Homo sapiens: one gene and its partner. The protein of the gene in region 1 purifies or fractionates together with the protein of each later gene. This does not show direct contact. Each region holds a gene or a part of one and is shown in the gene's direction. Other genes may lie near its edges. The genes, in order: MAU2 and SMC1A.

Region 1 (7,289 bases):
ACTCTACCCCCAGTACCCACCCTCCTGAGAGGGCATGGGGGCCCTCAGTAGGCTGGAGGTCCTTTACAACCCAGACACCTGTTGGACAGAGTGGAAGAGACGAGTAACAGACAAGGGTCCCTGTCCACGATGGGATCTGGGCTGCCCTTTGCCCTCATGGTGGACGTGTCTGCTGGGGCTTTGTACCCCAGTTTGGTCAGACAGGACATGGGCTCACCCACCAGCTATGGGGTCTCTCCATTGCTGCTCAGACGCCAGGTCCCAGGTTGCAGTCCTGTGATGGCAGTACACTCTCTCCCGGCAGATCTCCCAGGTCTGCCAGCTGTGCCAGCAGTCCCCCCGGCTCTTCTCCAACCATGCAGCACAGCTGCACACATTGCTGGTGAGTAACCCTGTGACAACACCCCGGGAGAATCCAGAATGTTCTCAGTAAGTAAGTACCTAACCAGATCCAGAACATTCCCAGTGAAGGACCCCCTGACAGCACCCTAATCAGAATCCGGAATGTTCCCATAGGTAATCATATAACCTTCCCAGGCACGATCCGGAATGCTCCCAGTGAGCATCTTGTCCCACCCCACATTGGCTTGGGTCTGAAAGGTGGGGACAGTGAGCATATTACCTGCCTTGCAGCTGGCTCGGTAGAGCCATTGTCATACTCCTCCAGGGCAGCCGTGCAGGCCCCGGGCACACCACGTGTCTCTGATCTGAGCCCCCTCCCCAGGGGCCGGCCCTGATGACAACACCACCTTCTTCCAGGGCCTGTACTGTGTCTCTGTCAACTGCATGGACAACGCGGAAGCCCAGTTCACCACGGCCCTGCGGGTAAGGTGCCGGCCCTCCTTGCTGCTCGGGGCGGGCCACACTTCTGAGTAAGGAGTCGGGCGTGGTCTGTGATGAGGACAGCAGTCGCGCTAGGTCAGCTATGCAAAGCCGCAGCCCCAGAGGCAATGCACAGTAGTCAGCCCATGCCAGCCTTGGCAGTGACGCGCTGTTTATCTGGATAAGGGACAGCTATGGGGCCAGGGGCTTCCTGAGCTGACCCAAGGGCAGACGTGAGGGAGAGGTGCGACGCGTCCGGGGACACCACTTTCATGCCTGAGTGGGAACTTTTGCGGCACCCACCCCCAAGGCTGGATTGGCTCAAGTGTCAGCTGACAACTCAGAGCCATCCTGGGTTCAGGGCTCCCATGGGGAGTGGTGGAGCTGGGCCATCTCCCAGGTGCTCTTTGGACAGAGGAGGACTCTTGGTCCTGCTGGGCCGGAGAGGGTGAAGCAGCACCCCAGGCTCCTGGCCTTAGACGGGGGCCCCGCCAGGCCCTGGAAGAAGGCTGGTGCCACATCCTCACGGAGCGCCCCAGCCCAGGGCTGGACCATTGTGTCCCCACCTCAGCCTCAACCTCCTCACAGGAAATGGAGGCTGTGGACACCTTTTTCCTGGTGGTGCCAGGAAGGGCCCTGAGGAGAGGTGTCAGGGAGCAGAGGCTGCTCTGTCTGCCACTCGGGCAAGGTCACCAGGGAGTCCTGTGTGCGCCCTGACTGTTGGACAGGGTTCCCATTCCACGGCACCCCGCAGGCCTGTGGGTGCTGCCACCCCCGCCACTGGCCTCAGAGATGCACAGGAGCCCTGACATGCAGACAGCATGCTTGGGAGGGAAGGGCTGACTCAGCACCCACTCCTCTGCCTCCTCACCTCGCTCCCAGGACCCTGGCTCACTCTGACTGCAGCAGGGCCAGGACCCTCCTCGTGGCCCTGCCATCCTGCCATCTCCGTCTCCGTCTCACTCCCCACAAGTGGTTGCTATTGCTGGTTTGGTTCCGCGTCAAAGTTCCCAAGGCCATGTACCCTAAGGAGTCCTCACCCCGAGGCCAAAAGAGAGCCTCTTTTTCATGGCCCACCCAGGAGTGATGGAGCCAGGATGCAACCCCAACACCCCTAACCCCAAACACACACGCCTCCTGTGGCCCTGAAACAAACATCTCCCACCTTGCTACGTCTCAGAGCATCTGTGCTTGATTCGGAAGATCCTCTGGGCCTCCTGGGTGTGTGCCAGGAGGGGATCTGTGCAGGTGGGGTCTGTGCTTCCTGGGCTCACTCCACCTCTTGCCCAGCCCCACTGGGAACCAGGGTCTGAGCAGGGCTTGAGCTACATAGATTGGACCCTCTCTTGACGAACGATCTCATTTGCCAAGAAGAGCCAGGGACCATGGCCCATCCACCACCTGTCATCAGCAGCATTTCTGGTCTCTGACACAGCATCACCTACCTGGAGCGGGGCCTGTGCTGGCCCCCTGTGGGACAACAGCTCCCCTCTTCCCCACTTCCCCCTATGAAGAGTGACCCCCGCCTAGGACCAGCATATGCCTTGATGGCAGTGGACACCTGGGTCCCACAGGTTGCTGGCTGTGGCCTGGAGGAAGGGTCCACCAGGTCTCAGTCCTGAGAGACAGTGGAAAATGGACCAAAACCCGACATGTTCTGAGGGTAGGATTGGGGTGGCTGGTTTTCCTCTTCTGTGTTCTCTAACTGCCCCGTAACGCAGATGATGGTTTTATAATGAGAAGAAGTAATAGCTGTGTTATCCTTGAGCTTAGGAGGCAAAACAAGTGTGTTTGAAATGAAAAGAACAAGTCTTTTCCAAAGTAGTCTCCGTGGAGATTGTGGGTGCTCTGACACTGCCACATGGGTCACAGCACCCGACCCAGCCCCCTAATGTCCCCGCCTCCCATTCCAGCTCACCAACCACCAGGAGCTGTGGGCCTTCATCGTCACCAACCTGGCGAGTGTGTATATACGGGAAGGAAATAGACACCAAGAGGTAGTAGGTGACATGCTTCATGTTCGGTATCCTTTCTCTCTGTTCTCTTCTTTTTGGGGAACCAGGGGGTTGTCCTGGGCACCAGCACATCTCAGCAGACCCCAGGGTGTTCACCTTTTGAGGGATGGGCGGCACCCGACACAGACACACAAGGCGACCCAGAGGTGAATCGGGCTATGGCCGGGGGAGGCCAGGTCTGGGACAAAAACATTCCCATAGCCACAGAACACTTCTCTTTATCACAAACAAACCAAGCTGTATGAATCACACAGACAAGGTCTTATAGCCCAAGCTGTCTGCTCTAGGATGTCGGCCAGGCATTGAGGCTCAGTCCTAAGGGGCAGCAGCCAGAGCACCTTGTCCCCAGGTTGTGCTGATGCCCCTGCAGGATCAGGGGCACTCACTGGCTGCAGTGTTGGGTGGGGATGCCCAGGGTTGCCCTCACGTGGCGCTTCTGAACCAATGCTTGCATAAGAGTTAGGTTCCCTCTTCTGTCCCTTTTAGCCCTGGGATCCCCACTCAGCCCTGGGATCCCCCTCAGCCCCGGGATCCCCTCCTCAGCCCCGGGATCCCCTCCTCAGCCCTGGGATCCCCCTCAGCTCTGGGATTCCCTCCTCAGCCCTGGGATGCCCACTCAGCCCTGGGATCCCCCTCAGCCCTAGGATGTCCCTCAGTTCTAGTATCTCCTTCACCTCTGGGGGTCTACCTCCAAAGTGTATCAGGCCAGGTGCTTGGCTCACACCTGTAATCCCAGCACTTTGGGAAGCAAGGCAGGAGGATCACTTGAGGTCAGGAGTTCAAGACCAGCCTGGGCAACATAGGGAGACCCCCATTTCTACAAAAAAATTTTTTAAAAACTTGGTGGGGTGCAGGCCTGTGGTCCCAACTACTCGGGAGACTGAGGCAGGAGGATTGCTTGAGCTAGGGAGATTGAGGGCTGCAGTGAGCCATGATCCAGCCACTGCACTCCAGCCTGGGCGACAGAGCAAGAACCTGTCTCAAAGGAAAAAGAAAGCCCAGCCCCGGCTTAGTCATCCGATGCCATACGTGGGCTCGCAGTGTTGAGGAGGAGTTTGGCTCCCCTGTGCCTCTGCAGCTAGAGGGCAGCTAAATTATCAGTCAGATCACGCCCCCATCAGAGCCTCCCGGGGTCCCTGCACCTCCAGAGAAATCCCACCCACTCACCCCCACAGCCCACAGGGCTCACGGGCCCCAGCCTGCCAACCTACCCACTGCCAGGCCAGCCCCTCAGCACCACTCTGACCATACAAAGGCCTTCTGGACGCCCAGGCCCCTGTCACCTACTGCAGGACAGGGTGGCACAGGCAGGGCTGGCTGAGGGTGTGGAAATCTTGCCCCCGGCCCTTCTCACCAGAGGCTGCTCTTGCTGGTCAGTCACCAGGCTCAGCCTGGAGGCCACAGTCCCGACGGGGGTGTAGAGAAATTCCCATGCACTGCAGTGTGTCTTGGGGACCTTTCTCCTGTGAAGATGCAGAATGGTGCTGACTGGCTCTTTCCCCCGCAGCTCTACAGTCTGCTGGAGAGGATCAACCCGGACCACAGCTTCCCTGTCAGGTGAGCCGCTCCAGGCACCACTCCACGCACGGCCTAGGCTCCCCGTGCTCTTTGGTTGGGGCCCCTGACTGCCCCTTGCACCCTGACACCCCATACCCCTCCTCACAGACAGTCTGCAGTGGGGGCTCTCAGAAATAGCCCCCAGCTGCCCACTGCCGTTTTGTAAACCTGCTTCTCAAAATCACCACCCCATGTGATACTGCACTCTCCCTGCAGCTCGCACTGCCTCCGAGCAGCCGCCTTCTATGTGCGTGGGCTCTTCTCCTTCTTCCAGGGACGCTACAACGAGGCCAAGTAAGTGTGGGGCAGAGGGTGGCGTGAGGGCCATGCTCAGGGTAGCCCAGGCCCCGTCCTGCAGTTATCAGCGTCCATGTTCTCCTTGTCAGGCGATTTCTGCGGGAAACTCTGAAGATGTCCAATGCTGAGGACCTGAACCGGCTCACAGCCTGCTCCCTCGTGCTTCTGGGCCACATCTTCTATGTGCTGGGAAACCACAGGGTGAGTGCCCTGGCCTGGGCCCCTCGCTTGGGTGCCTGTGGGGCTTGGCTGAGGGACAGGAGCCGGCCAGCACCCTAAGGGTGGCATGGCACTGTTCATCCTATGCCCCTCGAAGAGCACGTCTAGGTGGATGCCCTGACTCCCACAGCCTGGGCAGGCAGGGCCAGAGGAGCTGGGCACCCACAGAGGGTGTGGGGGGAAGGCAGGAGGCCTGATGGGTGTGGCCTCAGACATTGGGCAGGCAGAGCCCCAGGGCTCAGGGGAGCTGAAGCCAGAACCAAAGGAGCTGCCCTGAGCTACTGGGGATGACGCAGCCACCCCATGCTATGTGTTGACACCTGAGGGGCAGAGAGGTGTCTCCTCTCAGCCGGACTTCCAAACATATCATCCTTGGCCAACACAGTGTCCTCTCAGGGTACAAGTGGCCCCTGGGATTGGTCCCCACCCAAGGTCAGCCAGTCTCTGGTGGGACTGGCCGCCTCAGTCCTTCCTGTCAATTCCTCGCCTACTCTCACCCACTGATCTCACGAGGTCTTGAATTTTTTTTTTTTTTTTTTTTTTTTAAGAAGATATTTTGGGCAGGCACAATGGCTCACGCCTGTAATCCCAGCACTTTGGGAGGCCAAGGCGGGCAGATCACCTGAGGTCAGGAGTTCAAGACCAGCCTAGCCAACATAGTGAAACCCTGTCTCTTACTAAAAATACAAAAATTAGTGGGGCGTGGTGGTGGACGCCTGTAATCCAAGCTACTCGGGAGGCTGAGGCATGAGAATCACTTGAACCCAGGAGGCAGAGGTTGCATTGAACGGAGATCATGCCGCTGCACTCCAGCCTGGGCAACAGAGTGAGACTCTGTCTCAGAAAAAAAAAAAAAAGATGTTTTTGGGACAGGCACGGTGGCTCATGCCTGTAATCCCAGCACTTTGGGAGGCTGAGGTGGGCAGATCACTTGAGGTCAAGAGTTCAAGACCAGCCTGGTCAACATGGTGAAACCTCATCTCTACTGAAAATACAAAAATTAGCCAGGTGTGGTGGCACACATCTGTACTCCCAGCTATTCTGGAGGCTGAGACAGGAGAATTGCTTGAACCCAGGAGGCAGAGAGGTTGCAGTAAGCCGAGGTCGTGTCATTGTACTCCATCCAGCCTAGGTGAGAGCAAGACTCCATCTCAAAAAAAAAAAGGCCGGGCATGGTGGCTCACGCCTGTAATCCCAGCACTTTGGGAGGCCAAGGCGGGCAGATCACAAGGTCAGGAGATCGAGACCATCCTGGCTAACACGGTGAAACCCCGTCTCTACTAAAAATACAAAAAATTAGCCGGGCATGGTGGCAGGCGCCTGTAGTCCCAGCTATTTGGGAGGCTGAGGCAGGAGAATGGCATGAACCAGGAAGGCGGAGCTTGCAGTGAGCCGAGATCCCACCACTGCACTCCAGCCTGGGCAACACAGCAAGACTCCATCTCAAAAAAAAAAAAAAAGATATTTTTGGCCAGGCACAGTGGCTCATTGCTTGTATCCCTTTGGGAGGTGGATGGGGGAGAATCCCTTGATCCCAGGAGTTCAAGACCACCAGCCTGGGCAACCTAGTGAGACCCTCTTTTTTTTTAATTTAATTTTATTTTTTGAGGCCGAGTCTCACTCCGTCACCCAAGTTGGAGCGCAGTGGCATGATCTCAGCTCAGCTCGTGGTAACCTTCACCCCCTGTAGGCTCAAGTGATCCTCCCACCTCAGCCTCCCAAGTAGCTGGGGCCACAGGTGTGTGCCACCATGCTCAGCTAATTTTTTTATTTTTGGTAGAGACTGGGTCTCCATGTTACCCAGACTGGTCTTGAACTCCTGAGCTCAAGCGATCCACCCACTTCAGCCTCCCAAAGTGCTAGATTACAGCATGACCCACTGTGCCTGGCCCTAGAGATGCTATCTCTTAAAAAAAAAAAAAAGATATTTTCCAGCCAGACACAGTGGCTCAGGCCTGTAATCCCAACACTTTGGGAGGCAGAGGTGGAAGGATCATTTGAGCGCAGGAATTCAATATCAGCCTGACCAACATAGTAGATCTGAGATCCCATCTCTACAAAAACCAAACAAAAAAATTAGCTGGGTGTGTGGACTCATGCTTGTGGTCCCAGCTAATTGGGAGGCTGAGGTGGGAGGATCACTTGAGCCCAGGAGGTTGAGGCTGCAGTGAGCTGTGATCATGTTACTGCACTCCAGCCTGGACAACACAGTGAGATCCGTCTCAAAAAAAAAAAGTTATTTTTCTAGATTATAAAATATGACATGTTCATAATTAAAAGGCTGAGAAGCAAAACAGAAAAAAATTGCATGTCTCTGTCATCCATCCCTTCCCACTGCCCACGTCTCCCACGTGGAGGTTTTGCTTGTCAGCCTGTTTG
Region 2 (4,295 bases), on another chromosome or scaffold:
CACATCTGTAAAAGGAGATAATAAACACCTACCTTGCAGTAGTGAAGCAAAGAGAAAATTAAATATATATGAAGCAATTTGGCTGGCATCTAGATCATTCACAGCCCTTTAAAGGTCACCTTTGCTGTTCTCCCCACTTTACAGATAAGGAAACTGAGGCCCAAAAAGGTTTGAACCCAGGTCTTCCAAGTCATTCAAGTGCTTTCTCCACTGTACAGGTGGTTATCAACCTTGGCTGCGCATCAGAATCGTTTGTAAAGCTTTTTCTTTTTCCTTTTTAAAAAGTAAAGCAATATATACACAGGTAAAAAAATAAAATAGTACAGAAGGGCTTATAATGAGAAGCAGCAGTTCCCTGCTTGCACCCCCACATCCAAAGGATGTGGAGCTCTTTAAAAATAAATTGCTCTGGTCCCACCTCTGGAAATCTGATTCAGCCAGCATGGATAATAACCCAGATAACTAACCCCTACCTCACAGGATAAAAAGGATTACATGAGATGCCTTAGGCTAAGGCCCTGGCACACAGGAACACATGTGCTACAAAGGAGCTTTGGGGACTTAAGTCCTGAGGATCCAGGAGGTGAGGTGACTTGTCCAAGATTCCACTGGTTTAGTGGCAGAGCCTAGACTTCCACTCGGATCTATTTAGTGCTTGCCCCCTGCTCTCTCCTGTCGTGCCCCACCACCTCCTGGCATCACAGGGCAACCGTTGTCAAGGCTATGCTCACGGGAGGCTGGGCACCACAGTGTTTCCAAGAGCAAGCTGGATCCGAGTAGATTCCCTAGGGCTTGTTGGAGGAACTAGTTTGACTCCCTTATACTGTGGACGCAGTAGCCTTGCTGTAGGGAGTTGAAGAGTACTCCACAACAGTATCTTAAGTTTAACTGGGCACTTCCCTCTGGAAATCACAGTGTTGTGCACCAGGAACACAAAGATGAGTCAAATCTTTATCCTGCCTTTGAGGAGCTCACTGTTTAGTTGGGGAAACCATTTGTAAAACAGCCATTAACCATACAGTGTGATCAACACTGACAGGAGCACAGGAAAAACATCTAGCTTATGTGAAGATTCAGAGAAGGCATCCTGTAGTCTAGGTGGTGATACCTGAACTGAGTCTTGAGGGACGGGTAGGAATTAGCCAGTTGAGGAAGTAGAAGGAATTTCCAGATATTGGAAACAGTATGCATGAAGACATGAAGGCAAGAAACAGCAAAACAAATACTGAAGCATGAAGATTCCTGGGGTGGGGGGAAAGCAGCAAGAAAAGGTAGAGAGGAACCAGATTGGAAGAGGGTCGTAAATGCATGGCTACAGAATTCAGATTTGTTTTGTAGGACAGTGTGGTTCCCAAACTGGCTGTATACCACAAACAGGTACGGCATTCTGGGCCCCGGCCCCTAAAACATTCATTAAGTCTGGGGTGAAGATTTGGAATCTTGAATGCTTATAAAGGTTACCACATGACTAGGGTACAGCCAGATTTGGAAACCATAGCTTGAAGGCAGTGAGGGAGCCATGAAATGGTTTTTAATAGGGGGACTCCAGATCAGATGTGAACTTAACCTGTTTCTGGCTGGCTAGCCAACCAGCATGGAAAACAGATTAGGTTAGATGTTCATGCTGTATGTGCCCGTGCCTGTAGCTTCCCTGTTAATCAGCTTCTTACACTACTATATTTGCTTATTTTGTCTCTGAATAAGCTTTAGGCACCACAAGGGTGGGCCTGGGGATATTTTGCTTACCAGTATAGCCCCTGCAAAAAAGCACAGTGCCTGACACAAAACAGGCACCCAGTAAAGTTTTTGAATGAATGAATGCATGAGTGAATCCATTTGTGAGAGAGCGAATGGAGATGACAAGATTAGCTAGGAGACTGGAAAAAGACCAGGAGGCCTGCACTAGGGCAAAGGCCAGTAGGAATAGATTGGAGGTGTTAAGGTGTGAACTGTTAAGGTAAGATGATAACTTAATGACTGATTATTGGATGTGGAGGGTGACTGAGAGGATAGAATGAGTACCCATGAATAGCCATGATTCCTACCCTGTCCCAGTCATCTCTTTCCTTATCCATCTCTGAAACAATCTGCTTACATCCTCCTCAGCAACTGGAATTCCTCAAGTTAGTTAGACATTCTGTGTGCTGTGTGGTCTCTCACTGCCCCCCCACTCCCCACCCCTCCACAAGCCATTGATTCATTCATCCAGTTCAATAAATCTTGGCTAAGCACCTCCAGTGTGCAGTAAGGCTCTTCCAAGCCAGGACTCTGACTCCCTCTTTCCTACCTCAAGAGATGTTTTTGAGGGCTTTCCCAGGTAAGAGTCACATCTCTTATACAATAACTTATAGTGAGATACCCAGAATGTCAGACTTGTAAGGGAAGACTGCCCAAACCCCTTCTGAGGTCCTCAGAGGGGAATTAACTTCCTAAGGTCCGACTGCTAGGAAGTGTTGGAGCCAGAAATGGAAGCTAGGTTTCCTTTCTATGTCATCTCTGGAGTCTTGATCTTGATCTATCCCATTGTAGATCAGGACAGGCAGAGGTGGTCAGGGAGAAGGTGGGACTTAGGTTGAACCTTGAAGGTCAATGTATTGGACAGGTCAAACAAGATGGTTGCCAATTACACTGCCCCCTTCTGGAAACCCTTAGCAAACCTGCCATGCTTGCAGTCCCTTCTAAGGGGTTTCCTTAGCATAAGTTGCCATGCTCTGTACCATGTGACCTCACAATCCTGGCCACAGATAGCTAGATGTGGATAGTGTCTGGTTCAAGGGCAACCAATCTCTAGGCTGGCCAGTGGCCTGTTAGCTGGACTGGCATAAGGACTTCACCTTACAGGGGTGGCATGTATCAAATGGCAAATGTATGAAACAACCAGATCTTTCAGGGAGGCAGAATGTGAGCTATTCAGAAGAAGTGAACGTTAATTAGAATTTAATGAGGCATTAGTGGTGGTGGATGAGGGGTGGCCAGAAACTAAACAGCAAAAGCAAAGAGAAAGCTGCAGAAACCATAAGTAAGCAGAGGTCATGAGACATTTGTATAATGAGATCACGGAGCCACAGGGTGGCAGAAGCCATGAAGCAGCAAGGCAACAATGGGCTAGAAGCCATGAAGCAATAGGAGCCACGAGGAACAGAAACCGTGAGACAAAACTGACTATGAGATCCACAAAGCAGCAGAAGGCTTGAATAGATAAGATCATGAGACAGTAGAAGCGATGAGACTGCAAGAACCACAAGGTAGCCAGAACCATGTGGCAACATGGCAACAGGAATGGAAGAGGCAGCAGGAGCTACAATGCAGAAAAGCCATGGATTAATAGGAACTGAAGCGCCGGGAGCCATGAAGCTGCAGGACCCATGAGGCAGAAAAAGCCATGGGCTAGCATCGAGGGGGGCAGAAAGAAGTTAGTCAGTAGCAGTAGGAGGAGTATAAATACAGCCAGAAAGGAGTTGAGTCACCAATTTGGGAAGCACTAGAGAAGGGAGCAACAGATGCCTGCAGCTGAGGGGGTGACAAGATAAGCCAGGCTCTAGAGCTGCTTTGGATCATGAACCATTTTCAAGTTTCTGTTCTTCCATGAGGCTGCCTGTGTAGCTGTTCTTGTCTTCCTTATTTCCCTGTGAATGCTTTAATAAATCCCCATCACTAACCTGTGTGTGTCTTTGTTCCTTGGAATCTAAAAGGTTAACACTGGTGTGCAGTTTAGATAACAGGAAAGCAGGGCAAGAGGTCTTCCTGGTGGGGTTGAAGCAAGACACAGAGGTGGGAATTCACTCATCCTTTCCTGCCTCACTGGCATGGGCACCTTTCATTCACTTACTTATTTTTATCATTCATTCATCCACTCATTTATTTATTACCTTATATATGCACTAACTCACAACTTCACTCACTTATTCATTAATGCATTAATGTAAGCATTTACCAGTTCATTTGCTCTTTCCTGTATTCACTCATGCATCATTTTTCCATCCATTTGTTCAGCAGGCATATGTTAAATTCCTGTCATGTGTCAGGCCCTGTGCTAGGTTCTGGGAATTAGATATACATGCCCTCCAGGAATTCTTGGCTTAATTGGGAACTCAGATAAGTAAGTGGTTAAGCACACTAAGTGTGGAAGATGATATAATGGACGTCTAGGTGAGGCAAAGTGAGCATATAGGAAGTATTAGGTGGTTCTCCCTGGGGTGGGAAAGCCTTTATAGAGGATGGTACACTTGAACTGAGTCTTGAAAGAGGAATGAGTGCTTACCACTTGGAAAGGGAGGAAAAAACATTCCAAGCAG

The links.
Region 2: the proteins of MAU2 (region 1) and SMC1A purify together in Homo sapiens (affinity purification with mass spectrometry; 2 studies listed by BioGRID and IntAct, with this or other methods). This does not show direct contact.

The regions. Positions count from the first base shown.
Region 1 is NC_000019.10:19,344,545-19,351,833, forward strand, and holds part of MAU2 (MAU2 chromatid cohesion factor homolog), read left to right. Parts: intron 1-304; coding exon 305-382; intron 383-759; coding exon 760-825; intron 826-2,735; coding exon 2,736-2,822; coding exon of another isoform or gene 2,823-2,826; intron 2,827-4,344; coding exon 4,345-4,394; intron 4,395-4,610; coding exon 4,611-4,688; intron 4,689-4,780; coding exon 4,781-4,892; exon of another isoform or gene 4,893-4,897; intron 4,898-7,289. UniProt on the Homo sapiens protein: Plays an important role in the loading of the cohesin complex on to DNA. Forms a heterodimeric complex (also known as cohesin loading complex) with NIPBL/SCC2 which mediates the loading of the cohesin complex onto chromatin.
Region 2 is NC_000023.11:53,373,512-53,377,806, reverse strand, and holds the end of SMC1A (structural maintenance of chromosomes protein 1A), read left to right. Parts: 3' UTR 1-3,658; downstream 3,659-4,295. UniProt on the Homo sapiens protein: Involved in chromosome cohesion during cell cycle and in DNA repair. Central component of cohesin complex. The cohesin complex is required for the cohesion of sister chromatids after DNA replication.